7 linked regions of the Homo sapiens genome follow. The protein of the gene in region 7 purifies or fractionates together with the protein of the main gene of each other region. This does not show direct contact. Each region holds a gene or a part of one and is shown on either strand. Other genes may lie near its edges. The genes, in order: ZNF516, LZTS3, KIAA0232, LPIN2, PPP1R3F, AKAP11 and DYRK1B.

Region 1 (3,897 bases), on a different chromosome or scaffold from region 7:
CTCGGTGTTCTTTTTTTATTTTTATAAATACAGATTTTACTGGTTATGTTCCAGTAATACTCTGTCTACTTTTTGGAGCACATGCTGGACAAAATATTGGGCTAGGACTATGGGTTTTTTTTCTTTTCACTTTTAAGAGAAATATTCTTAATATTTGGAAAAGCTCTTGGGCCTCACTCACCCCATTGATTATGATGGTGGTCACCTGATTCATAGTAAGCTAATCCAGTAGTGCTTTTAGAAATCAAGAAGTTGGAAAGATCAAATGATTCCCATCATAAATTGGAAGGTACTCTTTTTTCAGGCTCATTAAATTTTAGAGACTACTGTTTATGTCTTAAAGACATTATATATATTTTTCTCTATGTGTAACTTTTTGAGAAAGTTAATACAGACCTCAGCTGATTCTATAACAAGACATGTATCATAGTTGAATGTAACAAACAGTTGGTGATAGAATAAATAGGATATTTCAGCTTATTGAGAGAGGACAGAAATTTATGGCTCGACAGAGGCATGAAACATGGAAGAGCCCTGTAGGTGTATGTGGGTCACTTTCCGTAATCCCAAAGGACAGTATCTTTCTATCTAAAAACACCAACTTTTCACTCACAACAGCTGCCTTTAATGGTCTAGTGTAGCAACAAATTACTAATTCATGGATATTCTTTAAGGAGAGAGAGACCGTGTTCCATTGATTTAACTACTCTCAAAACACTGTGATTTGTGGGATTTGGCCCAGGTCTTTCACAGGGCTAGCTTGGAAAAGAAACTGGGTATTTTGAATCTCATATTTAAATCTGCAGCATTCCTTTCTTTTTCTGAAAAAATACACGCAACTTTGGGAAATGCTTGCCTTTCCTGTTACTAAAAAGATTACTTAGTTCTTTAAGTGTTAGGTTATTTTAAATTCTCATGGAACTCTGATGGGATGATTGGTTAACACTGTTAGAGTGTCTGTGTGGGAATTGAGGAACGAAAGATCACAGTGGTTCTTACAAGCAGCAGCCAGCCTGCCTGTGGGAGCACAGTTGAAATTAGAATTCAGATCTATGCGACCATTCCAGTAATACCCAGTTGTGCCATAATTTTGCCCGAACATTTTCTTTGACATCTGGGAATTGATTTGAATGCTGTTTCTGGATCTGGAAATAATTTGCATTATTAGATTAAGTGAAAGAAACTCCTCTCCTTTTTTTTTATGGAACATGTTTCGTCAGTTGAATGTTGCCATCTATTCCTCTGGAAAGTGTTCTGATATTCATGTTACTTTTATCCCCACATAAGACTTGGTCACAGCAGCTCTCGTTATTGACTTAAAATAGTAGAAGTGCAAAATTATGGAAAAAAAGTCAGTCATTGGGAATATGTTACTAGATTTAAATCCTCCACTGAGAAAGAGACGTGGCATGGACAGAAAGTCTACTTTTGGACTTCATAAAAAGTTAATATTTTTAGTAAGAAAGAGGGGTGAAAGGGCATCTAATTGGAGTTTGTAAAAATCAACATTTCCAACATTCCCAAACACAAGTAGGCTCAGGGAGCTTAGAAACCATCACTAAGGAAAAACGAATATTGCTTTGCAAGGAGACATACAAACCTTCAGTGTATGGGCCAAAATAGAATTCTGCTCAGAAAGCATTTAGGCGACTTAGGAATAACAGAAGCATGCAGAGAGGCTGCACATCTCTGGAAGATTTGCTGTCAGAGTTCGTGCCATCCTGAGAAGTGCCTGGACTGGGATGCCTGGTGCCCAGGCCATGGCGGATGCTCTGAGGTGCTCATAATGCACAAGCGGTGCCCCGTTGAGCTGCATATCATTCAAGACTAATTTCACTACTCCCGCTTTTCACCATTTCTTGTCGTGCTAATATCTGTCATGTAAAATCCATACTCCATCCTGTTGAACCCACCCTCACTTTTTAGATACTCACTGCGACTCAATAGATGGGACACCCTCAAGTTTTAGAGGATGTTGTGGGAAGTTACAAGTACAGTTGGCCCTGTGTATCCGTGGATTCCACATCTTTGGATTCAAGCAACCACAGCCTGAAAATATTAAAGAAAAATAGATGTTTATATCTGTACTGAACATATACAGGCTTTTTTTTGTTATTCCCTAAACAACACAGCAGAATTTATAGAGCATTTACATTGCATTATTATAAGTAATCTAGAGATGATTTACAGTGTACGGGAGGATGTGCGTGGGTTACACGCAGGCATTTACACCAGGGACTTGAGCATCCTGGATTTTGGTATCGGGGAGTCCTGGAATCAGTCACCCCTGTCCCACAAAGGACCATTGTGTTCAACTGTTTTTGATCAACATAATGGCAAATTGTATGACTCAATAGAATAAAAAAAGTGCTTGGAACAAGTGCCTTGGTATTATATGCAATTTGAAGAATCAAGGAAAGAGTCTTCAAAGAAAAAAAAAATATGGTCAAGGGAAGGAAAGGTAATTAAAGGAGGAAATGGCTCTACCTTCAGAGTGTCTCACGTTTCCCGTCCCCTCGCTGGCTGCCTCCCTGCCGCCCAGCAGCCCCGTCCTCAGAGCCCATCTTCTTTCCACTGTCACCAGGCGCACTGAGGCTTTTGCTGTAAGGTGTTTGCTGAGCACGTGCTTGGAGGCTGGCTGGCTGTCCGTGCTGGTGCGCTGGCTGTGAGGAAGGCCAGGCTGCAGTCATGCGGCTGGGCACAGAGGTTCAACAACTGTCCTTCTTTCTTTCTGATAGAACACAGACAGCAATTAGAATAGCTTAGGGAGGGTGAGAGACGGTATGTGTGTGTGTGTGTGTGTGTGTGTGTGTGTGTTTTAGACAGGTCTTGCTCTGTCACCCAGGCTGGAGTGCAGTGGCACAATCTCAGCTCCCTGCAACCTCCGCCTCCCGGGCTCAAGCCATCCTTTCACCTCAGCCTCCAGAGCAGCTAGGACTACAGGCGGTCACCACACGTGGCTAATTTTCGTATTTTTTTGGTAGACATGGGGTTTTGCCATGTTGTCCAGGGTGATCTTGAACTCCTGGTCTCAAGCAATCCACCCGCCTCAGCCTCCCAGAGTGCTGGGATTCCAGGTGTGAGCCACTGCACCTGGCCTGGAGGATGTGTTTACCCGTTGAAACAGGATTGAGGGTGAATTTGGCCAGCGGAAGGGAGAATGGAATGAGGGGGTGAGCTGGGAGGGGTGTCTGCCTGTGCGGCCAAGCCTGCTGGGTGTGGGCAACCTTTATATGGTACTTCTTCTAAGCGTTTCTTCAAGGTAGAGCAGGAGGAGCTCTCACAATACCTTCGCGCACTGACCTTGCAGCTGAATCCACTCGCGATGCTGAGTCTCTCGGGGACTCAGCGGTGTCCTGGCTTGGACGCAACACGGGCAAAGCTCTCTCTGAAGCCAAGTCATGGGTTGGGAGGAGCGCTTGTCCTCACACAGTGTTCATCATGGGTCCCACGAGAGGCTCAAAACGATTCAAAGAAAGAGGTTGTGGACCAAGGAGGAGAGAAAACGAGTGAAGTGCGTTCATCAAGGGAAGTTCCAAGTGTAGGCAGGAAATAGCATCCAGTTCAGCTGGGGAAGGAAAGCACACACGGCTGGGAACAATTTCATGGCAAACGCCACTCCATGGCCTGGAGCTGTGGGATGTCCTCATTCTGAGGGGGTCTTGGTGGCATTGGGGCCCTCTATTAAACAGGAGCTTGCAGAATGGGTAAAGGTAAAAAGCAGAAGGCCAGCCCCCCTTAGTATCCAGACAGGTTCATTCGGCCGGGCTCTGCCCAGTTCCTTCGTCGTGCCACAGCCCCAGGCTCATCTTGCATAATATCTAATAAATGTTCACACATAGACTGCTCTGGTGCTCCTGAAGTGCAGGGGTGACAGGCTGTCCTGAAGTCAGGTGC
Region 2 (3,897 bases), on a different chromosome or scaffold from region 7:
CACGATACTGCGGTGGGGCTTTGTCACTGCCACCACTGCTGCTGCTGCCTCCGCTGCTGCCAACCACGTTGCCACAGACATCGGTGTGGTCACTGCCCCGCAGCTCACCATTGAGGTAGAGGGAGTTGGCGAGACCCTTGTCCTCTGAGGGGTAGCGGCCCGGCCTCTCCCTGCTGGCCCCACTGCCACTGCCTCGGGGGCCAGGGAAACTGCCCTGGCTGCCCCCACCCCCTGTGCGGGTACCCACGCTCTTCATGGCAAACTCCTGGGCATGGGCCACCCCACTGCCCACGCTGCCCATGGCCAGGCGGGGGTCCGGGGGTCCAAGCTCGGAGGGCCGTGGGGCAAAGGCCAGGAGAGGATCCCGCCCTGGGTCAGCGCGCACAGGCAGCGTCTCCAGCTTCGCCATGACTAAGCCAGGGGGGCACTGTGGGCACAGGTGGGAAGGCAGAGATAGGTAAGACCCTACTCCTATTCCCACCACCCCAGCCAAGTCAACCCGGCACCGCTCTGCCCCTCAGTGTCCCCTTCCCTACAATGGGTACAAAAAGTTCCCAGGCATCCAAGGTGAAGGAATAAGGCTGGGATAAAAGAGAGAACTTGGGAATGGGGGCTGCCTGTTGCCCACCTGATAAAGCCCAACCCCCAGGGCTCCATGCACATAGCCCCCAGCGTTGCTCAGCTCAGCTCAGCTCAGCTCAGCTCAGCGTTCCATTCCTAAACTTCTGCCTTAGCCCCACCTCCGCCATGAGCTTCCCAGGCTCAGTGACCCTCTCAACTCTTTGCTGCAACCCCAGAATTTTGGGGTTCTTTATCTTGGGTCTGGGACCCTAATATCCCAACCTCATGGGCTGGGGAAATGGGGTTGGAAGGGGAGAGCAGTACCTGAATCCAACAGGGAACCAACCTCAGAAATTAGGGGAGGGAGAGAAATACACCCCTATCCAAAAATTGAGGGTGGGGGTCCTTCCCAGCCCCCTAACCTAAGTGTTGCAGTCAGGGCAGAAGTGGAAGCTCACTACCAGCGCAGGCTTCTCTCCTTGCCTTTCCAAGGGGTTGAGGGGCCGACGGGTCCTCAAGCCTGGGACCCTCCGAGGCCCGGTCTGCAGGGGCCATGTGCCTCACTCTCGCAGTCGGGGCTCGGCCCGAACCAGCTGCGCGACTTTGGAGGGGCCGACTGAGCCATCCCGGACTGCAGTTTTCTCCTCTGCGAAATGGGAGGAATGAAGGACCTACCTTGCGGGGCTGCCGCGTGCCAGGCGCCCCGAGGCGGCGAGCGCCTGAGGAAACGGGGGTCTGGGGGAGGGTGGGTAGGCGACGCACATCTGGGTCGCGGGTGGGCGCCGCCAAGGGCACAGCCTGTCCCTCCCGGATGGACGGGGGCCGCGGCTGCAGTAGGTGGCAGGCCTGCCCTCCCCAAGGTCTTCCCAGCTCGGCCGCACCGGGGCCCTGGGAAGACAGGGCCCCCTTCCCGGGATCAGTCCTCCGCAGAGGTCCCAGGGCTGGCTGAGGCCGGGGCAGGGGACGCAGTGGCGCCAGCTGCTGGCACTGACGGAGCCTCTCTCAGGGCCTGCGTTTCCCACAGGTGGGAGGGGGGAGGGGAGGGGAGGGGCCGCTGCAGGGTGCGCGGCCCCAAGGATCCTGCGCCTGCCGAACCCCGCAAAGAATTCACTGCCACCAGGAAGACTTCCCGGATTACTACCCTCTCCCGCTCCCTGTGGACCTTGACCCTGCTCAGCTTACCGTGAAGCCCTCTGAGTCCTTCTGTGGGTGCGCGTCCCCCTCCCCCAAGGCCGGCCCACAAGCGCAGGGGGAGCCAGGCCTCGGGTTACCTGTGCTCAGGGAGGCCGTGCTTCCTCGTTCCTTTGTCTCAAGTTCGCACCTGGGAACACCTGCCCCAGAGATCTGCATAATGCAGCCGGGCAGGAGCACCAGGCAGTGTCTGCCTCGGGTTAGACCCTCAAATAAGTGTGTGGGAAATGGGAGAGGGCGCCCTTCAGGCCTTTTCCCACTACACCCTGCATAAACCAGGCAGGGAGCCCTCCTTCCCTATCAAGTTAAGGGGCCCACGTGGCACCCTATGGCCCCACAGACCGTCTTCTACCCAGATGCCCAGTTCTAATGCTGAGTCCCTGGCCCAGACCAAGGGCACCTGACAAAACTGTTGTCCTTCGGGAGTCTTCTGGCCCCCACACCAGGAATGAGAGCTCTAGGTTGTTGGAAAGTTCACTACCAAGCCTGTCCACTGTCTCTGTAGAATTCCATTCTCAGCATCTGTCCCCACAGGTGTGGAGAAGAGCACTTCGCCACCCTCCTCCCTTGGACCCGTCTGTCCCCATAAGCAAGGGCCAGGACTAGGATGAGGACAGAGAGCCACGTAGGGCACAAATGAAGGGCACAAACAGCAAGTACACAGCCCTGAGGGTGACAGCCTCCTTCCCTTTGTGCCTTGGGTCCCTCTCTGGCCTCACTCTAGTCCCTGCTCTGCCTCTACTCCCCAGCATACTCCAGCCCCCTATGCCTCAGCCCTGCAACCCCCTCCTACCTTAAGTATGGACCCTTCTCTTGCCACCTCTGGGTGCAATGTGGGGAGCAGCTGGGGACTGGGAGGATGAAGCCTGAAAGGCCTGAGGCTTGGAACCAGTAGGAAGGCCTGGGCAGGGTTTGGGAAAGAACTGGCAAAATTTCATACAGATGAGGTCAGGTGGTGGGGACAAGGGATAATGCTGGACTGGGCACCAGCGTGCGTGTGACACTGTTAACATGATAGGGGGAGACTGCTTGGGGAAAATAGTTGCTTTGGGAAACACCAGAGGAAGATACCTCTCAAGCACTAAATGGAGGCCAAGCAAGGTGGCTCATGCCTGTAATCCCAGCACTTTGGGAGGTCAAGGTGGGCAGATTACTTGAGGCCAAGAGTTCAAGACCATCCTGGCCAAATTGGTGGAACCCCATCTCTACTAAAAATACAAAAATTAGCTGGGTGCGGTATGCATTCCTGTAATCCCAGCTACTTGGGAGGCTGAGGCACGAGAACCCCCTTGAACCCAGGAGGCAGAGGTTGCAGTGAGCTGTAATTGCACCACTGCACTCCAGCCTGGGTGACAGAGCGAGACTCTTTCCTTAAAAAAAAAAAAAAAAAAAAAAAAAGCACTAGATGGAGAGAGATTGAGATCATCAGTTTTCAAGGGTGCTGGGGGTGTAGGCCAGCACTGAGCCAGGGAGCAAAGCCCCAGAAGTCTGGAAGGCACTCTGGGAGCAGGAAGAAGGCCAGGAGAAGGTGGGCCCTGAAGGCCAAGATTGGGGGGATTCAAGAATGTGGGGACAGTTTCCAGTGTTAAAAATAACAGGGCCAGGTAACACTGGGGTTGGAGAGTGTGCTGCGGATTTAGGAGCTGGTCTCGAGACATCACCAATGTCTATGTCAGAATGGTTTCAGAAAAGTGGTACAAGTGCCGGATGCGGTGGCTCACACCTGTAATGCCAGCACTTTGGGAGGCCAAGGCAGGCAAATCACTTGAGGTCAGGAGTTCGAGACCAGCCTGGCCAACGTGGTGAAACCCCGTCTCTACTAAAAATACAAAAAATTAGCTGGGCGTGGTGGTGCGCGCCTGTAATCCCCTACTCAGGAGGCTGAGGTGGGAGAATCACTGGAACCCGGGAGGCAGAAGTTGCAGTAAGCCGAGATCATGCCACTGCACTCCAGCCTGGAAGACAGAGCGAGACTACATCAAAAAAAAAAAAAAAAAAAACAGGTTGGCGCGGTGGCTTACGCTTGTAATCCTAGCACTTAGGGAGGTCCAAGACAGGTGGATCCCCTAAGATCAGGAGTTCGAGACCAGCCTGACCAACAGGGCGAAACCCTGCCTCTACTAAAAATACAAAAAAATTAGCTGG
Region 3 (3,897 bases), on a different chromosome or scaffold from region 7:
CCGGGCACAGTGGCTCATGTCAGTAATCCCAGCACTTTGGGAAGCCAAGGCAGGTGGATCACCTGAGGTCAGGAGTTTGAGACCAGCCTGGTCAACATGGTGAAACCCAGTCTCAAATATTAGTTGAGCATGGTGGTACATGCCTGTAATCCCAGCTACTCAGGAGACCGAGGCAGGAGAATTTCTGGAACCCGGGAGGCAGAGGTTGCAGTGAGCTGAGACTGTGCCATTGCACTCCAGCCTGGACGACAGAGCGAGACTCTGTCTTATTAAAAAAAAAAAAAAAAAAAAAAACAAGAAAGAAAAGAAATGATTATCCATGTTCACAAGCAAGAACACTGAGTTCCCACTGTTTACTGCAGAGGGAACATAGGCAATCCTTGACCTGCCAAACCTGCTTCCTAAAGATACTTTTATTTTTTTGTTCGTAAATAGTCTTAAAATAATCTGCATTATAAACAGACTTCCCTATTATACATTTTATTTTAATCTTTCGAACCTCTGAAACCTAAGAAAAAAATAGCATTTCCTTGGTTTGTATAGACCTGTATTATCCAGCACAGAAGCTGTAAGCCATGTGTGACTACTGAGCACTTGAAATGGGGCTGGTTCAAACCGTGATGTGCTGTCAGTGGACAATTCTCATTGGATTTCAAAGACTATATATAAAAAAAAGTAAAGTATTAAACATTTTAAAGTATTGATTACATGTTGAAATGATAATATCAGGAGTTTAGTTAAATATATTACTGGAGTGCATTTCACCTATTTCTTATGTTTTTAATGTGCCTACTAGAACACTTAAAATTACATATGAAGCTCAAAATATATTTCTGTTGGTCAACTCTGACATAGACTGAGAAAGAGAATCAAGTTCAGGCCCTTTGAAAACATGGCCTTTTACCACTTCATGTGTGACCTTGAGCATTGCCTCTGAAACAACAGTCCCCAGTAGCCAATGTGACTTTAAATTCTGCCCTTTGCAATCTGTTCTGCTCTGAAATCTTCAGTGGCCCCCAGTTTCCTAGCAAATCAAAAATACTTTCTCATTTTCAAGCCCCCTGAAACCAGCCTCCCTGGCTTTTTCTACGCTGCATTTCTGGTGATCACAGCTCTAGTTAGTTTTCCATTCTGTGAGCATAACATGTGTGTCTTGGTGTCCTCACACAGGCTCTCAGGCCTCACAGGTAGTACTCACTAAACTTGTGGAATAAATCTGGAATTTCAAGGCTCAGTTGTGGCCCACTTTAATTGTTGTAGGCCTCACCGACATCCTCTTTCTGAATACTTGAATGTGATCATTCCTACCCTTTCTGAGGGCCTGCTTCAATGCCAGGCAGTATGCTAGCAGTTACGTAAGAAGCTGCTGTTCCAACTCATTTTGCATATTAATTCCTTTACTCCTCACAACCCTGAGAGGTAAATATTACTAGCTCTATTTTGTAGGTGAGGAAACTGAGCTATGGAGAGGTTAAGTAACATGCCTAAGGTCACACAGCTAGTAAAGCAGGCAGAGCCAGGATTTGACCTCAGAGAATGTGGCTTCAGAGCTCATACTCTTGACTGATTGCTACCGAGCTTTTTAACCGCATATATTTTCAACGCTCACAATAACTTTGGGAGGTAAGTCATAGGATCACCATTTTGCAGTTGAGGAAATAGTCTGAAGCAGTAAATAATGAGCTTAAAGTCGCAAGCAATAGTGACTTAGCTGAGATTCAAATTCAGATAATGCTTACTGAAGAGACTGCATTCTTTCTTCTACTATTTGTCCTTTTTGACTTCTTAATTAAAATGCAAACTTTGAAGATAAAAACTGTCATCTTACATATTTTCTCAGTAATCTTACAGTGCGTATCACAGTGCTGAGCAAAATGGTGCTTGATGCATGGGACTAATCTTAAGCATATTTTACTGTATTATAAATTATTGTAAAGTTAATGATTCTTGGATGATGTGAATGTTGACACTACTAAAATGAAATATTCCATTCTTCTGGTTGGTAATGTTGTTTTACTGTATCTAAAAAATCTGCATACTCGTGTTTTGAAGTCTTTACTCTGTTTTTCAGGTACTATGAAGCATTTCCACCACTTTCTGAGAAACCAGTTTGCCTGCAAGAAATCATGACTGTGTGGAACAAGTCTAAAGTCTGTTCTTACTCTAGCTCTTCTTCATCATCCACAGCCCCACCAGCTAGCACAGATACTTCCTCTCCTAAGGACTGCAACAGTGAAAGTGAAGTCACCAAGGAAAGAAGCAGTGAAGTACCCACCACTGTGCATGAGAAAACCCAGAGCAAAAGCAAAAACGAGAAGGAAAACAAATTTAGTAATGGCACAATTGAAGAAAAGCCTGCTTTGTACAAAAAGCAAATCCGACATAAACCTGAAGGAAAGATTCGCCCTCGCTCGTGGTCTTCTGGCTCCAGTGAAGCAGGCTCAAGTTCCAGTGGGAATCAGGGAGAATTAAAAGCATCCATGAAGTATGTTAAAGTAAGACACAAGGCACGAGAGATTCGAAACAAAAAAGGGCGGAATGGGCAAAGCAGGCTTTCTTTGAAGCACGGTGAAAAGGCTGAAAGGAACATTCATACTGGAAGTAGTAGCAGTAGCAGCAGTGGTTCTGTCAAACAGCTGTGCAAGCGGGGTAAGAGACCTTTAAAAGAAATAGGGAGAAAAGATCCTGGGAGCACTGAAGGAAAAGACCTGTACATGGAGAATAGAAAGGACACAGAGTATAAAGAGGAGCCCTTGTGGTACACCGAGCCAATTGCTGAATATTTTGTTCCTCTGAGCAGAAAAAGTAAACTAGAGACCACATACCGAAACAGACAGGATACAAGTGATCTGACATCAGAGGCAGTGGAAGAATTGTCTGAATCAGTGCATGGTCTTTGTATCAGCAACAATAATCTTCATAAAACATACCTCGCAGCAGGTACTTTCATTGATGGTCATTTTGTAGAAATGCCTGCAGTTATAAATGAGGATATTGACCTCACTGGGACCTCATTATGTTCTCTACCAGAGGACAATAAATACCTGGATGATATTCATCTATCAGAATTAACGCACTTCTATGAAGTGGATATTGATCAATCCATGTTGGATCCTGGTGCCTCAGAAACAATGCAAGGAGAAAGTCGGATTTTGAATATGATTCGACAGAAAAGCAAAGAGAACACAGATTTTGAGGCAGAATGTTGCATAGTGTTAGATGGTATGGAGTTGCAAGGGGAACGTGCAATATGGACAGATTCTACCAGCTCCGTAGGTGCTGAGGGCTTATTCCTGCAGGACCTTGGCAATCTGGCTCAGTTTTGGGAGTGCTGTTCATCCAGCTCCGGTGATGCTGATGGGGAGAGTTTTGGAGGAGACTCTCCAGTTAGACTCTCTCCCATCTTAGACAGCACAGTGCTCAATTCACACCTGCTTGCTGGCAATCAAGAGCTCTTTTCAGATATTAATGAAGGATCTGGTATAAACTCTTGTTTTTCAGTGTTTGAAGTGCAATGCAGTAATTCTGTTTTACCATTTTCTTTTGAAACACTCAACTTGGGAAATGAAAATACAGATTCTAGTGCTAATATGCTTGGGAAAACACAGTCTAGATTGCTAATATGGACCAAAAATAGTGCCTTTGAAGAAAATGAACACTGTTCTAATCTTTCAACAAGAACTTGTAGTCCATGGTCCCATTCAGAAGAAACACGTTCAGACAATGAAACATTAAATATTCAGTTTGAAGAATCCACACAGTTTAATGCCGAAGATATTAATTATGTAGTTCCTAGAGTCTCGTCAAATTATGTAGATGAAGAACTTCTAGATTTTTTGCAAGATGAAACTTGCCAGCAAAACAGTAGAACTTTAGGTGAGATTCCTACATTAGTTT
Region 4 (3,897 bases), on a different chromosome or scaffold from region 7:
ACCAAGTATCGATGGTTGGCTTTTTATTTTCAAATAGTAAGGATGTTCTGATTTATTAAACTTGTGTTCCAAAAGTGAGGAAGAACTGTTGAACCAAGAGTTGGATGTTTTCTCTACTTATTTTGAGACAGGGTCTCACTCTGTCACATGGGTTAGAGTGCAGTGGTGCAATCACAGCTCACTGCAGTCGTGACCTCCCTGGGCTCAGGTGATTAGAATAACTTCTTAAGGTAATTTTTATTTTTTCTTATTATTTTTGAGACAGGGTCTCACTCTATCACCCAGGCTGGAATGGAGTGGCTTCATCTTGGCTCATTGCAACCTCTGCCCCAGGGCTCAAGCGATCTTCCCACCTCAGCCTCCCAAGTAGCTGGGACCACAGATGAACGCCACCATGCCAGGCTCAGTTTTTTATGTTTGATAGAGACAGGGTTTCACTATGTTGCCCAGGCTGATCTCGAAATCCTGAGCTCAAGTGATCTGTCCACCTCAGCTTCCTAAGTACTGGGATTACAGGTGTGAGCCACTGCACCTAGCCTTCTACCTATTTTAGAGGGAAATAATCAGCAAAAGAAAGCACATACTCATAATCATAATTAGTATGCATTGATTTTTATCTGATATTACTGCTAAAAAACCTACCTAATTTAGCCTCAGCTAAGATGTTTCAAGTGAAAACATTTTTTCTCTATTCTAATTTTTTAAGATTCTACTTCACTTTACTGACATACCTTATCAATAAAGTGGTTAATTTTACTCATCAATTGATTACAACTCATTATTTGTTTTCTCAGTAAATGCTTCTCAAGAACCCACTGAGTAGCAACAGTCAAGAGACAGCAGTGTGCAAGTCAGGCCCTGCTCCAACTGGACTTTCCAGGGGGACGCCATGGAAAGCAATTGTAAGAAAGTGAGTGACGGGCCTGGGCACGGTGGCTCACACCTGTAATCCCAGCACTTTGGGAGGCCGAGGTGGGCAGATCACCTGAGGTCAGGAGTTTGAGACCAGCCTGGCCAACATGGTGAAATGCCATCTCTATTAAAAATACAAAAAATCAGCCGGGGATGGTGGTGTGTGCCTGTAACCCCAGCTACTCAGAAGGCTGAGGCAGGAGAATTGCTTGAACCCGGGAGGCGGAAGTTGCAGTTAGCCGAGATCACACAATTGCACTCCAGCCTGGGTAACAAGAGCGAAACTCCAGCTAAAAAAAAAAAAAAAAAAAAAAAAAAAGTGCGACGGGTTTCGACTGGTGAATACAAATACAGAGGCAGCCATCACGTTATGTGGAACACTGAAATAATTTACCATCTAATTTGAGAGTACCTGGAGCCAAATTAAACAAACGATTACCTTTCTTCTTTGACGGCGAGTCTACTTTAGCTGCCGGTTTGGATTCTGAGGGCGCCTCCGCTAAGGCTGCGTTGGGAAGGTGGTCAGCATCTAACATAGATGAAATCTGAGTACTCTCAAGAGGAGGTTCGAGAAGCTCTGCCACAGATGTTGGGTCGCTCATCTGTGTACCCAGGGCTCTGGGTTTGGGCTTCACTATGGTACAGACAGTGTCTTCCATGGAAGCATCCTTCTCAACTTCACTGATGAGGTTGTCCTCACTGGGAATTACCCGAAAATGAGTATTTTCTGATGGTGTAATTGTAGCTGTCCTAGGATGATGGTCAGATCGTTCTCTTTTGCTGACCTAAAAAAGTTAAATTGTTTAAAAATTAAACTACTTTCAGAGTATTTGTTATAATCTATTTCCTAAGCTGGCAATGTGTTCATTCTATTTTTAACTTAACACATTCATTAAGTATCTTAGTTTGTACATGTAAAAATTCCATAATAAAGTGAGAAAAACTAATAATTGCCTTTTGTTCAATATCATGATACTTATAAATGTTCTGGCCGGGCACAGTGGCTCACGCCTATAATCCCAGCACTTTGGGAGGCCAAGGTGGGCAGATCACTTGAGGTCAGGAGTTCGAGATTAGCCTGGCCAACAGGATGAAACCCTGTCTCTACTAAAAATACAAAAATTAGCCGGGCATGGTGGCAGGCGCCTGTAATCTCAGCTACTCGGGAGGCTGAGGCAAGATAATTTCTTGAACCCAGGAGATGGAGGTTGCAGTGAGCCGAGATGGCACCACTGCATTCCAGCCTAGGTGACAGAGCAAGACTTTATCTCAAAAAAAAAGGTGTACGTTAAATGTTCTACTGTGAAGTTATACTGGAGAAGACTGAGGAAACTGACAATTTTCAGTTACTAAGAAGTAGAAAATACTCATTTTGGGGGAGAAAACTAAATGAAAATTTCACCCTCCTTGGACCACATCAAGGCTCTGTTAAAACAGTGTAAAAGTGGCAAGTCTAAATTCGATCACAAATATATGCAAAATGTATATTTTAAAAACCTAAATTCAACAGAAGATCTAAACATTTTCTCTCTCAAGAAATTTATCTTCTCAGTTCTTTCTTCTTTCATTATGAGCTGGAAAAAAAGGTTTAACAATTTCTTGTTTAAAATTTCAGTGTTGGCTGGGGATGGCAGCTCACGCCTGTAATCCCAGCACTCTGGGAGGCCAAGGCAGGAGGATCTCTTGAGCCCAGGAGTTTGCGATCAGGCCAAGCTGATATAGCGAGACCTTGTCTCTACAAAAAATAAAAACTAAAAAATTAACTGGGTGTGGTAGCACACACCTGCAGTCTCAGCTACTTGAAAGTCTGGTGTGGGAGAATTACCTGAGCACAGGAGGTTAAGGCTGCAGTGAGTTGTGGCTGCACCACTGCTCTCCAGCATGGGTGACAGAGCAAGAACTCTGTCTCCAAAAAATAAAAAATAAAAATTCAGTGTGAAAATTTCAGTTTAAGATGCCTTTTAAAATGTCCTTATAATAATTAACAATCATTATTATTCAGTAAATAGAAATATACACAAAATACTACTGAAATCCTTCGGTTGCAAATATATAGTCCAAATGTTACAAAAAATGTTAACTTTGAATTTACTTTTATGACATGAGGGCACTATCATTTACATTCATGAGAGCTCAGTCAGAAATTGCCTCCTTTACTTATGGGCAGAGGAATTCGTCACTTGTTTAATCATTAACACACTTTCCACAGGCAAGTAAACCCTAGTACCTTGGTGGACTCTGGGAATCCGCCCCACGTCCACTCCATGTGAGACTCTGATCTGAGCAGGCTCTCCGCAGGTTTCACCTCCAGCTCTGAATCACTCTTAGGACACGCTGTCTGGGGATAGGTGCTGCAAAGAGAACAAAGACACACGATGACTTGAAAGTCGGGAAACCTTCAGTCTTGCTGAGCCTGACAGATTAAAAGAAACAAATCTGAATATCTTGACTTTATCCTGCATATATAAAAACTCTATGGAAGGGAGCATCAATTATTTCTTCCACTTGAGTTCTTTAATAATAATAATAAAAATGACACCAACTAGTATTTAAGAGGACTTACCAGGTCCTTTGTAAACAAACACTGTAGATTCATAATCTCATTTGCTTTTCACAAGAAATCAATGAGAAAGAAGATAATTTTGTAGGAAAGGAAAAGCAGGCAAATTAACATAACACCTGAGAATCTGATTGCAGAATAAACAGTTATGACTATACTTTTTTTCACTATATTATTCATTTACAGCCAACAGTTGACACTAAAAGATGAGAATTTTTAAGAATTGCAGATGAGTGGGCACAATGTCTCATGTCTGTAATCCCAGTGCTTTGGGAGGCCAAGGCGAGAGGATCACCTGAGGCCAGGAGTTCAAGAATAGCCTGGGCAAAATAGCGAGACTCTGTCTCTACAAAAAAATTTAAAACTTAGCTGAGCACAGTGGTGCGTGCCTGTAGTCCCAGTCACTCAGGAGGCTGAGGTGGGAG
Region 5 (3,897 bases), on a different chromosome or scaffold from region 7:
GGGGCATCTTAGTTTTCTGTAGAGTGAGGAATTAATGTGAACGTGATCCTCTTTTATGCCACAGAAAACTTGGTAGGGCATTATGGTTAAGGACATGGGCCTGAGGCCACGTGCTAAGAAAGTGGCAGAGCTGGGATCTGAGCCTGTGTGGTCCTGCTCTAGTGCTCCAGCTCTTAGCTACTGTACCAGGCTGGGTGATGCATTTTACCAGCAGGGCAACACTGGGCAAGTTGCTTTCCTTTCAGAGCTTCAGTTTCCCTCAATGGAAATTTGGAGGGGGTTACTGTTAAGTGCTTTATAGGTACTTTTCAAATATTTCTTTGATCTGCTGAACAACTCACTGATGTAGGTATTATTATCCCCTCCTTAGAGATGAGGTAACTGAGGCACAGAGAGGTTAAGTAACTTGCCCCAGGTCACACAGCTGATAGGTGGCAGAGCTGGAATTGTTCAAAATTGCATATCCTAACCCTTTATTGAGTTGTGAAATCAATTTACTGGGTTTCAACAAGCATTAAAAAGAAAAAGGAAATAGCATAAGAAATGCCAGTGTATCACCACATGCAGTAAAGGTAAGTATTGTTTCACTCGAAGAACAACCATTTTTCAGTTATTTATATGTCTGTTTACACGTGTGGGTGTGCTGGGTTATGATGTAGAATGGATTTCTTACTATGGGTCGTGGCCAAAGAATGAAGTCATGGCTGTTGAAGAAGCTCATGGCACGAGAAACTGCTCTCCCTCTACCCCACTGGATCACCCGCAAGTCCCAGAGTTGAGGCTGACACACTTGTTGGGGAAGGCAAAGCAGTGCCCCACATAACTTGGTGGCTTTCACAGCCACCTTCAAACCCTGTTCTTTTCAGAAAGCAGATGGCTCAGGGTAACTGCAATTCTGAGTATCGTGGGGCAGGTTTCTGAAGCCACTCATCCCCCCGGAAAGTCAGCGTTATCTTCAGGTTGACTACATGGGAGCCGGGGTCTGCTGAGTTTCCCTTTGGGTTTCAGTGCCTGACCCACTTTGGGCTGGCAAAATTCTTTGAAAACATGAATGCTGGGGGTGCTCCAGAGGACTCGGGTGGTGGTGGCAATGGCAGTCTGTGACTGCTCTGAAAGTCTGCTTTGCTTTTCTCCACAGGGCTTGTCAGCCCTCACCCGCTCGCTTACTCTGTGACTGGCGAATCACCTTTCTTGGCTTTCTTGGCTGGCCTAGGCCGGGGCCAACACCACCTCTTTCCAAATCCTCACCCTCTGGTCTCCTCGGGGCCTATCAGCTTGGCAGCCATTGTGTTTCCTGATGGCCGGAGGAATTTGCACGCCCAGGAGACTGGCGTGCAGGCCTGAGATGGCCCCTTTTAGTCGACACCAGCTTGACTAGTGCTCACTAGCACCCAAATGATGCATGTCCAAGATTTTCCAGATCTGTGTGCCCTGGCCCCTATGGCTCACTGCCCTTGAGGGGATGCCACGTGGTACTTGTGGGGCTGGTGCCAAAAGAACAGGTTTCCTTCTTGAAAACGAGCAGGCATACTGCAGGTACAGTTTTGTTCTTAATCTTCTCCCTCCCCATTTTTCTAAGAACCCCTCTTCTCTGTTACCGATCAGTGAGTCAGTATACATTTGTACTTGATTTCTCTTACTATCCTCATGTTGATTGAAGTCATAGCTGCCCTTGAGTTTTTACTGTGAAAGACGGTTCAAAGATAACTTGTTTCTTTTTAAGCCCACAATTTCAAACTCTCTTCAAAGTGGAGCCCTCCTGGAGTGTTTGTTACCAGCGTGGTTGTGTAGTCAGTGAGTGTAGAGATGCAGTTCCTTGAGTTTTAGTTTTTGCATTTGTAAAAAGGAAGGGTGTTGTTTTGAAGGATAGATGTGAAGGTTTTCAAATGCCTTGGTGTGTCAATGAGAGGGGCCCATGGTGGAGGAGGTGAACAATACATGCTTGTGCTTTCTGCTTTCATATCTGACTTTGGAGAACGACTTGTTTGCTTCTGTCGATGTTGTGGATCTTGGGATTGGCTCAATGGCGTGACCTGCTTTTTGGATGTTCTCGCCCTCCTCAGCCATGGAAAGGGTGCTCTGGGGGCTGAAGGATTGATTGTGTATTTGTTTTTCTTTCTCCTTCCTCCAACTGAATTGTGGAGTCCTTTACCTGCTGGCTAGCTGATTCCTGAGTGTTCTCCTTTTTCTGTCTCACATCTATGACTGCAGTGGCTTTTAGAAGCCTGTTTGTAATATATGTCCGGACTAGGCCAGATGGAGGAGAAGGCTTGCCTGCTACTGCGCACAGGTGGGAGGGCTGGCTTTCTGTCTGTCTGTGGGCCTTCTTGAAGAGGCTTGGTTTAGAAGATCCTAGGAGGAGGATGTTTTCTGTCATGAAGGACTATGGTAACAAAAAGAAGTAAGTTAGTGCAGCCTGGCAGAAATTGTGTTGAAACAAAAGTCCAAAGACCTGGATTTTAGGACCACGGAGGGGATTGGTGTGAGACCAAGCTGGTTTGCTCTGAATCTCTCTTTCTCATCTGTGATGTGTGGGAGGTGGCAGCTGGGCTCCCAGAGTCACCCACCCTAGGCCCTGTAGTATTCTGATTCAAGTACCTCTGGTGGGATTTGTGAGTCCTAGACAGTAGAGAAAGACAGACGGTCCCTTCTAGACTCTAGATCCGTATATATGGTTCAAATGTTCTCCCCGAGGGTGTTTATAGAAAGCAGTTCTTGCAGCCATTCTGTGTCTAGTGGCCTCCTAGCCACGCATGTCCCAGGCCCATGGAGGTAGGGAAATGGGGAATGAATATGTGGGCAAAGGCAGGTCCAAAGAAAAGCCTGCATGAAGGAGGAGGGAGGGATCTTGTCTAGTATTGATGCCTCCCTCTATCTACTTCTAGAAAGGATGGAGATGGGTTGGGTAAGACCCCAGTCTCCCTCATCCAAGAAGCAGCAGCTGACTGGGTAAGAGCCAAAAGGCCTGGGTTGTGATGTGAAGTGTATGACCTTGAGCCATTTACTCAGCCTCTGTTTTATCCTCTGTAAAATGGAGACAATAGTACTGCCTGCTTCAGAGGATTACAAGTACCTGTCTCATAGGGTGATTGTGAGGATTGAATTAACACATGTTGCCCAGGCACCGTGGCTCATGCCTGTAGTACTAGGACTTCGGGAGGCTGAGATGGGAGGATCGCTTGAGTCCAGGAGTTCACGACCAGCCTGGTCAACGTAGGAAGACCCCATCTCTAAAAACAAAATACAAAAAAACAAAAACAAAAACCAAAAAACCCCAAAAACTTCTTTAAAAAAATGTGAAGCACTTAGAACAGTGTGTAATGCCATAGTAGGTACTATGTATGGGTCAGATGGTGATACTCGTTTCTGTGAAGGTAATTGGTTATGGGTTTTCAAAAAGTTTCAACCAGGCCGGGCACGGTGGCTCATGCCTGTAACCCCAGCACATTGGGAGGCCGAGGAGGGTGGATCACCTGAGGTCAGGAGTTTGAGACCAGCCTGGCCAACATGGCGAAACCCCGTCTCTATTAAAAATACAAAAATTAGCTGGCTGTGATGGTGGGTACCTGTAATCCCTGATACTTGAGAGGCTGAGGCAGGAGAATCACTTGAACCTGGGAGGCAGAGGTTGCAGTGAGCCGAGATCATGCTATTGCACTCCAGCCTGGCGACAGAACGAGACTCCATCTCAAAAAAAAAAATTTTTCAACCATTGTCAGAAGTATCAAGAATGTCACATTGCCTCTTAGGAAGAAAAAGGTGTGGGCATTCGCCCCAGCTCCTCTCAGGTTTTAGTCAATGCTTCCCTCATTTACCTTAATCTGTAGACACTTGATACTCATTTTCAGAATAAGAACAGTGACTTCTCCATGATGAGATGCCACCCCTGGGAGGACC
Region 6 (3,897 bases), on a different chromosome or scaffold from region 7:
GTTATTTTGGCTCGGAATGATAGCTTAGAATATAATCGTTTTGTTGGCTAAAAATGCACTATCAGCCAGGCACGGTGGCTCATGCTTGCAATCTCAGCACTTTGGGAGGCTAGGGCAGGAGGATTGCTTGAGCTCAGGAATTCAAGATCAGCCTGAGCAACATAGTGAGATCTCATCTCTACAAACAAACAACAACAAACAAAAATGAATAAAAATGTACTATCACATAATTTCCCAATTGCATTCACATGCCACCTCTCTGTTCATTACAGTTTGTGAAATATTTATGGTCATGTTCATGAATCAAACAAAAAGGGACATCAGGTGAAATAATACCTTAAAGAATAATCCATCTGAATGAATCTCCTTTCAAGTTTGAAAGACAAATTTAACTTTAGAAATAAAAAATGTTAAACGTAAACTCTACACACTAGAGTCAGCTTTCCTTAGTCAGTATTTACAGAACCCTAGCACAATTATTAAGAAGAGAAGCAGGAAAATAATTACTCCAGCCTTAATAAAAAGCTGAAATTGGACAGCACTGGCTTACAGGAAGAACTTTAGGGGCTATCTACTCACCCAACTCTAAGAAGGAAAAGTGGAAATTACTGAGAAAATCAATAACAAAGGCATTTGCTAGCCCCTGAGAGTGATGTCTTAAAAACTTTAGAGGACAGTCTCTTTTCTTCCCATGAGGGTGGGAGGAAAGGGGGATGGATGGGTCCGTAGGGCAGACAGGACTGAACTGAGGAGGAGTAAAAAGTAAAATAGCCTGAAGCAACCTGTATGAGGAAAATTATTTCAATTGTAAAAAGGCCTAATTTATTACCTATTCATGAGAATATTTATTAACAATTTATTATGTTTATTATCATACTAGGAACTGGTATGTAGTGAAAACGAAAATGTGGATCTAGGACAGAGGTTCGCAATTGTTTTCTGTAAGAGGCCATGATATGGTTTGGCTCTATGTCCCTACCCAAATCTCATCTCAAATTGTAACCCCCAGGGAGGGACCTGGTGGGAGGTGATTGGATCATGAGGGCGGCTTCCTCCATGCTGTTCTCATGACAGTGAGGGAGTTCTCATGAGAGCTGATGGTTTTAAAAGTGTCTGGCAGCTCCCCCTTCTCTCTCTCTCCTGCTGCCTTGTGAAGAAAACACTTGCTTCCCCTTTGCCTTGTGCCATGACTGTAAGTCTCCTGAGGCTTTCCCAGCCATGCAGAACTGTGAGTCAATTAAACCTCCTTTGTTTATAAATTACTCAGTCTCAGGTGGTATCTTTATAGCAGTGTGAAAATGAACTAATACAGGCCAAACAGGAAGTACATAGGCACTGCTGGTCATACAGCCTCTGTCCCAACTACTCAACTCTGCCATTATAGCACAAAGGCAGCCACAGAAATGTGTAATTGAATGAGCATGGTGGTGTCCCAATAAAACTTTATTTATAAATACTGAAATTTGAATTTCATATAATTTCCACATCACAAAATATCATTTGATTTTTTTCAACCATTAAAAAAAAACATGAAATCTGTTCTTAGCTTGCAGTCCATACAAAAACAACCAGTAGGCCACATTGGCCCACAGACTGTAGTTTGCCAACCCCTGGTCTAGGAGAAAGAAGGCTGCCTGATTAGGGCAAATAGAGACCTCTCCTAGTTCACCAGAAACCTACATCATCTCTCATCTCAAGTAGACGCTATGGAGCAATTGGATTCAAGAATCCTGGCCAAGCTATATCTCCCTATTTTAAGATGGATAAGAAAAGAGGCAGACCATGTCATGGCTTTAACAGAAGCTACTCAAAAATCTGGAATATCATGTGACTCAATTAAATTCCACCTCAACTTAAAGCATTTTCTCTTTCAAGCAGGACTTACAAATATCATCCTATCAACTAATAACACAAGTTGGTCCTGATATCTTCTCAGGGACAAAGAAGGTTTAAACTGAAAAACTGTAACTAAGTTGTTATTAAAGAATCACTGAGCATGGCTGGTTGCGGTGGCTCACGCCTGTGATCCCAGCACTTTGGGAAGCTGAGGTGGGCAGATCACCTAAGGTCAGGAGTTCAAGACCAGCCTGGCCAACTTGGTGAAACCCTGTCTCTACTAAAAATACAAAAATTAGCTGGGCGTGGTGGTGGGTGCCTGTAATCCCAGCTACTAGGGAGGCTGAGGCACAGGAATCGCTTGAACCCGGGAGGCAAAGGTTGCAGTGAGCTGAGATTGTGCCACTGCACTCCAGCCTGGGCAACAGTGCGAGACTCCATCTCAAAAAAAAAAAAAGAATCACTGAGCACAAGAGATAGCTACTGAAAAACAGGACACTGTAGGACTACCAGAAAGAACTGTCCTCTTAGATTGTGAACCAATCAAGAGAAATGGTGTAAGTATGTAAAGAATTTTCACTTTCTTCTTCAGAGTAGTTTAACCATGGTCTTTATAAGAAAACTTACCCTTGTGAATGAAGAAAGGTGTACAAAAATTTAATCTCAGAATAGTAAATTAATATAGTAATATTCTACATTTACTATAGAATAGTCCCCCCTTATCCATGGGGGATATGATCTAAGACACCCAGTGGATGTCTGAAACTGCAGATAGCATCAAGCCCTGTACATACCAGGTTTGTGGACCTGATAACTGAGATACCTTCTAAGTGACTAACAGGTGAACAGCACATGTAGTATGGATAAACTGGATAAAGGGGTAATTCACATCCTGAGTGAGATGGTGTGAGACTTCATCATGCTACTCAGAACATGCAACTTAAAACTTACGAATCGCTTATTTCTGGAATTTTCCATTTAACATTTTCAGATTGAGGAAAGCAAAATTGAGAATAAGGGGGGACTACTATATAAAATTCTCTAGCTATTTATTTAATTCAACTTTACCTATTTCATAGCTCTATGAACTTGGATAAGGTGATTATTTTCTCCAACCCTCATTTTCCAGCTCTGTAAATGGATAACACCTTCCCTCAAAAGGGATCAGGAGACCAAAATATATTAAAGTCATGTGTAGGATATGAAACAATACATAAATGCAACAGGGAAAACTTTTGTTTATGTAGGGTTAAAAATAATCATTCCTTTATGAACAGGACCTAAGACATATAGGATCACATTTATCTTTTTAATTTATCATTAACAACCAAAAGAAACGTGAAACTTACCTGCTAACAGCATGCCCAACATTTGTGACAGCTGCTGTCATGGTTTCTGTGGCAAGGCTTTCAGCAAAGCTGGCACCCTCCTGTCCGATCCCACTGTCGGCTGCCAGGCTGGTACTGCTCAGCTCTCGCTCAGCTTTTTCAATGGCTTCAGCAACTATCTTCTCAGCAAGCACTGCCTTCTTATCAAGATTAACATGAATCTGAGGGACACTGAGATGAAAAATCCTAGATTTCTGATAGCGGCTGCTAAATTTTGGATTAGAAGCTGGCTTACTACTGGCGAGAGAACCCTGTCTGAAAAAGTGCTGAGATGAATTTCCAGTGCAATTGTGGAGTTCTTTAAGGTCACAGTATCTGCAAGCTTGACCTGTAAGAGGTGACAACTTTTCTGCATAAGTGACCCTGTCTGCTGATTTTGTGGTCTCAGACACTCGGAACACTGTAGATCCTAGAGTTAGCTCTAGAGTGTCATCCACTACTTTTTTGGCATACTGTTCTACAGCTTGAACAACATTGTCTCCACAACCATATCCATTTAAACTGCCAGTGCTGTGGTAAAACCTGTGATTTTGTGAGGAAGGCTGAAGAGACTTAGGCAATTCTGGTGTAACGTGACACTCATTATCTTCTTCATATCCAGATTTTTCAAACAAGCAAGAATCTGTTAAGGATTTTGGTAGGCCAACTAGAGAGGCTGTCAACTCTTCCTTAG
Region 7 (4,473 bases):
TCAGGCAATCTGCCTGTCTCAGGCTCCCAAAGTGCTAGGATTACAGGCACGAGCCACTGCACCCAGCCAAAAACTTTCATTAAGCCTTTTATCACATTTCCTAAACCCGAGTGTCTTAGCCCATTTTATGCAGCTATCACAGAATGCTATAGACTGGGTAATTTATTTATTTTTATTTTTATTTTTATTTTTTTGAGATGGAGTCTTACTCTGTCACCAGGTTGGAGTGCAGTGGTACGATCTCGGCTCACTGCAACCTCCAGTTCCTGGGTTCAAGCGATTCTCCTGCGTCAGCTTCCCGAGTAGGTGGGACTACAGGTGTGCGCCACCACACCCGACTAATTTTTGTATTTTTAGTAGAGATAGGGTTTCACCGTGTTGGCCAGGATGGTCTCAATCTCCTGATTTCGTGATTGAGCCACCTCGGCCTCCCAAAGTGCTGGGATTACAGGCGTGAGCCACCACGCCCAGCCTTAGACTGGGTAATTTATAATGAATGGAAATTTATTTGGCTCCCAGTTCCAAAGGCTGGAAAGTCCAAGATTGGAGGTCTGAATCTGGCGAGGGCCTTCTTGCTGTCATCCATTGGCAGAAGGGTGAGAGCAAGATAGAAAGGGGGCATAATCATCCTTTTAATCAGCAACCCACTCTTGTGATAATAGCATTACTCTATTCAGGAAGGCAGAGGCCTCATGACCTGAATCATCTCTCGAAGGTCCCACCTCTCAACTCTTGCATTTAAGGGTTACGTTTCCAACACATGAACTTTGGGGGACACACTAGAACCATAGCACTGAGTTTTACTTGAATTAATAATGAAAACATCTGGTTTAAAGAGCACACAAGAGAAAAACAGCCCAAAGCCCTGTTGTAGACATTAGTCCTTTCTCCTCTTTAGGCCAACTGCATTGACTCCACAGCCTCAGCCGAGGCCGTGTTTGCCTCCGAAGTGAAAAAGATGCAACAGGAGAACATGAAGCCGCAGGAGCAGTTGACCCTTGAGCCATATGAAAGAGACCATGCCGTGGTCGTGGGAGTGTACAGGTGAGCAGGGGCCCAGCAATACACCAAGACAGACATCTCTGTCCCTTGCACCCCGAGTGCCATGATCCTGGGGACCCTCCTTCATCACCTATCTTCCTCTCACAGGCCACCCCCCAAGGTGAAGAACTGAAGTTCAGCGCTGTCAGGATTGCGAGAGATGTGTGTTGATACTGTTGCACGTGTGTTTTTCTATTAAAAGACTCATCCGTCTCCCATGTCTGCTGCTCATTCCTCCCCTTGACCTGCTGACACAGGGAGCACGCACCCTTGGTCAATTTTGCGGGGTTGGGTAAATTCTCACTCGGTCACAGAGCGCATGCTCCGTTTCTAGCTGCCTTTGCGCAGCGGCAGCCTGGATTTCGGTTCTTGGGTGGGATTGGTAGCTCGCTGCGCATGCGTGCAGGTAAGCGGCCATCTCGCGCAGGCGGAGTGTCAGTGTGGGTCACGTGAGGGGAGCGGAGAGGGAGGGATGGGGGCGGAGTCCAGGGCGTGGGGGGGCCGGTTTGTTGTGGTCGCCATTTTGCTGGTTGCATTACTGGGTAATCGGGGCCCTGGCTTGCCGCGTCCGCCGGATACCCTCAGCCAGTGGGCAGGTCTGAGCTCGGGCTCCCCGAGCAGTTTGAGTCCCCTTGCCCGCTCCTTCAGGTAACGGCGCGGGGACGGGTGGGGCGGCAAGCGGTCGCAGGGAGGTGGGCAGGACGGGATCCGCCCTGCTCCCGTCGCCGTGAGACTTAGCACGAGGCCAAGGGAGGAGAGGAGGGGGGTGGCAGGCAGGTGCGGGCCCTGCCTGGCTATTCATAGTTGAATTCCTGGAACCGGCCAAGCCCGAGGAAGCAGTTGCAGGAGGGAGGCTGGGAGGGGGTAGCCGGGCCCCACTCCCGCCCTTTGTTTGGGCTCAGCTCCGCGGGCCGCTTCTTCGTCGCCTAGCAACAGCTGCCCTAGGCTGTGATTGGCTGAGCTCTTGGCACCAGCGACCAATGGTACAGTTGTTGCCATGGCAGGTGCCGATTGCCAAGCTCAGTCGGGCCCCGCCTTCCGGTCTCAGCAGGCCCAGGAGGGCCTCCTGGGTGGGGGGCGGGACGCCGGGTCCCTAGGGGCTGGTGGTCACTCAGGGTGGGGCGTGTCGCCCCTCCCCCGTCCACCTGCTCTACTCTTCCCCCGCGTGCCCTGGGCTGACCCTTGTCCCCTCCTCTCCCCGCCCCCGGTGGCAGTGGCGGCTGCTGTTGTCACCCACCGGGCCTCCTGTCCCGCTTGCCCTCCCCGCCGCGGGGCCGGCCGGGCCAGAGACAGGCGGTCGCCTTTTCAGCGCCGCCACCGCCGCCATGCTGGCCGCTCGCCCACCCCACTGGGGGCCCCACCGCGCCCCAGCCCCCCGTGGGCCCCGCGCCAGCCCTGACCCGGGTAGGGGGTGGGGGCTGGGAGAGATGATCCTGGTGTGGGAGGGCCCCGGAGAAGAGGTGGTTTTTTGGGGGAAGCTCCAAGGGTGGAGGAGTCGTGGAGTGGCAAGGCATGGAATAGGAGAAAGGGATTTGACATGGGGGAGAGAGTGGCCCATGGGGAGAAGATTTTTGCTGTAGCTGACAACTCTGGGAGGAGAGAACCCTATGTGATAACTTGGGGATTTGACTTTGAGGCCCTCTAGGAGTGGACACAGTTGTGGAATGACCCTGGTATAAAGAGGGGTGCCTGGAGAAAGGTCTGTGGTAGGAATATTAGGGTGTGTGTGTGTGTGTAGGGGGGCAAGGAAGCAGTGTAGGGGAGAAAAGGATGATCACTCTAAACTGTGGGAAGAGACACCTCCTCCTTCTCCCATCAGGAGGAGTGGGCCTTGATTGGGATGGGATATTGGAGTAATATGGGGAAGAACCCTGTTGTGGTAGGGGGAATTGGGATATGGTACAGGGAGACTACCTGGAAGGCTGGTTCCTAATATGGAGGACCTGAAATAGGGAAGCGGTCTTGGCATGATATGGAGAGGGTCCCCTAGGAAAATCGTGCCCTGGTGGATGAGAATGCTGTAGAGATAGGACTCTGTTCTATAGAGGTTCTCAGATAACTTTGGTGTGGTTGGGAGGTCCCCAAGGACGCTGATGTGGTTTTAGGGCTGCAGAGGACTCTGCTGTGGTTTGGGAGGGGAAGACTCATGTGGTTTGGGAATCCTAGAGTTCTCTGGGTTGAGGGAATCTACTGAGAAGGATAGATCTTAAAGTATTGGCCCTGGCTGTGCTACGGGCTGAGATCCTGATGTTCAGGGAAGACTACAGAAAGTGGCATCTTGTGTTAGGGGCCCTGGGGAGGGCCACGAGTAGTGAGAAAAGAATGAAGCCTACTCCTCTGCATACTGTCTGTGGTTTCTTTTTTCTTTTCCTCCTCTGAATTATTGGTGTCTTCCTGTCCTCCTTTCCCTGTGATGGCTCATATCGACCCCTGCTTGGCCCCCAATCATTGTCTTTTATGTGTTCTCTTTGTGCTGCCTTAATCATTTACTTGATCATTATTTGTCGAGGGACTGCTGTGCCATCCCCCCCCACCTGGCTACCACTTCTCTGCCCCTTCTCTTCATTGCTATCTGCTGCTCCGTTGTGCCCTTTTCCTCTTCTCTCTGTGCCCTGTCTTTCTCATGTCCACTCTTCCCCGCCTGGCACTATTCACATATCCCCTTGTTCCATGTTGTTTTCCCACTTCCTGTCTGCTCTCAGGTCTCAGCGGCGGTGGCAGCCGAGGTGCAGGATGCAAGAAGGCGCCCCCCGGCCGGGCTCCCGCTCCAGGCCTCGCTCCCCTGCGGCCCTCTGAGCCCACCATGGCCGTCCCACCGGGCCATGGTCCCTTCTCTGGCTTCCCAGGGCCCCAGGAGCACACGCAGGTACGCGTTCAGCTGGCTCCTCACCTGCGTGGTGGTAGGGGGAGGCTGGGGATAGAAAGGTCTCCAGACCAAAAGGTAGTGTGGTTGCCCAAGACATTCTTCTGGGCACATAATGGGTCCCATGGGATTGGAAAATAACAGAGGAGTTTTCAGGCAGAGTCAGGGTTTGGAGAGGCTGGGTTCAAATCCTGACCCAGTGGTTAAATTCCTTAGGTTCTCCATACTTGAGTTGGAGAACTCAACTCATTCTGTGAAATGGGGCCAATAATGATACCTACTTCACAGGGTTGTTGTGAGGATTAAATGAGTTAATGGTATGCATGTAAAACACTTAGAATGGTGCCTGGCACATAGTAAATACCCAATAAATGCTACTAAGAAAAGTTCAGAGTGAAAGATCTGGATTGGGTGAATTTGGAGGGGGGTTGAGTCTAAAGGGTCTTGAGGCCAACAGGCATGGGTGGTGAGGGCAAAGCTCTCCCAAGGCTAGAGGCAGTGAAGGCAGTGACATGCAGAGCTTGAAGCAGGATGAAGTGGGAGGTCCAGGGGCCAGATCCAGATCCAAG

Evidence for each region.
Region 1: the proteins of DYRK1B (region 7) and ZNF516 purify together in Homo sapiens (affinity purification with mass spectrometry; 2 studies listed by BioGRID and IntAct, with this or other methods). This does not show direct contact.
Region 2: the proteins of DYRK1B (region 7) and LZTS3 purify together in Homo sapiens (affinity purification with mass spectrometry; 2 studies listed by BioGRID and IntAct, with this or other methods). This does not show direct contact.
Region 3: the proteins of DYRK1B (region 7) and KIAA0232 purify together in Homo sapiens (affinity purification with mass spectrometry; 2 studies listed by BioGRID and IntAct, with this or other methods). This does not show direct contact.
Region 4: the proteins of DYRK1B (region 7) and LPIN2 purify together in Homo sapiens (affinity purification with mass spectrometry; 2 studies listed by BioGRID and IntAct, with this or other methods). This does not show direct contact.
Region 5: the proteins of DYRK1B (region 7) and PPP1R3F purify together in Homo sapiens (affinity purification with mass spectrometry; 2 studies listed by BioGRID and IntAct, with this or other methods). This does not show direct contact.
Region 6: the proteins of DYRK1B (region 7) and AKAP11 purify together in Homo sapiens (affinity purification with mass spectrometry; 2 studies listed by BioGRID and IntAct, with this or other methods). This does not show direct contact.

What each region holds. Positions count from the first base shown.
Region 1 is NC_000018.10:76,435,988-76,439,884, reverse strand, and holds part of ZNF516 (zinc finger protein 516), read left to right. Parts: intron 1-3,897. UniProt on the Homo sapiens protein: Transcriptional regulator that binds to the promoter and activates the transcription of genes promoting brown adipose tissue (BAT) differentiation.
Region 2 is NC_000020.11:3,166,755-3,170,651, forward strand, and holds part of LZTS3 (leucine zipper putative tumor suppressor 3), read right to left. Parts: exon of another isoform or gene 1,744-3,897; intron 1,551-1,743; exon of another isoform or gene 1,237-1,550; intron 1,208-1,236; 5' UTR 1,117-1,207; coding exon of another isoform or gene 1,045-1,116; 5' UTR 984-1,044; intron 428-983; coding exon of another isoform or gene 410-427; coding exon 1-409. UniProt on the Homo sapiens protein: May be involved in promoting the maturation of dendritic spines, probably via regulating SIPA1L1 levels at the postsynaptic density of synapses.
Region 3 is NC_000004.12:6,858,830-6,862,726, forward strand, and holds part of KIAA0232 (uncharacterized protein KIAA0232), read left to right. Parts: intron 1-2,071; coding exon 2,072-3,897.
Region 4 is NC_000018.10:2,936,341-2,940,237, forward strand, and holds part of LPIN2 (phosphatidate phosphatase LPIN2), read right to left. Parts: intron 3,264-3,897; coding exon 3,140-3,263; intron 1,698-3,139; coding exon 1,352-1,697; intron 1-1,351. UniProt on the Homo sapiens protein: Acts as a magnesium-dependent phosphatidate phosphatase enzyme which catalyzes the conversion of phosphatidic acid to diacylglycerol during triglyceride, phosphatidylcholine and phosphatidylethanolamine biosynthesis in the endoplasmic reticulum membrane.
Region 5 is NC_000023.11:49,275,993-49,279,889, forward strand, and holds part of PPP1R3F (protein phosphatase 1 regulatory subunit 3F), read left to right. Parts: exon of another isoform or gene 1-1,402; coding exon of another isoform or gene 1,403-1,536; intron 1,537-3,897.
Region 6 is NC_000013.11:42,303,152-42,307,048, reverse strand, and holds part of AKAP11 (A-kinase anchor protein 11), read right to left. Parts: coding exon 3,186-3,897; intron 1-3,185. UniProt on the Homo sapiens protein: Binds to type II regulatory subunits of protein kinase A and anchors/targets them.
Region 7 is NC_000019.10:39,831,239-39,835,711, reverse strand, and holds the start of DYRK1B (dual specificity tyrosine-phosphorylation-regulated kinase 1B), read left to right. Parts: upstream 1-1,549; 5' UTR 1,550-1,689; intron 1,690-2,063; exon of another isoform or gene 2,064-2,366; coding exon of another isoform or gene 2,367-2,445; intron 2,446-2,532; exon of another isoform or gene 2,533-2,740; intron 2,741-3,743; coding exon of another isoform or gene 3,744-3,844; coding exon 3,845-3,907; intron 3,908-4,473. Other genes in the region: FBL (rRNA 2'-O-methyltransferase fibrillarin), read left to right, coding at 899-1,044, 1,150-1,174.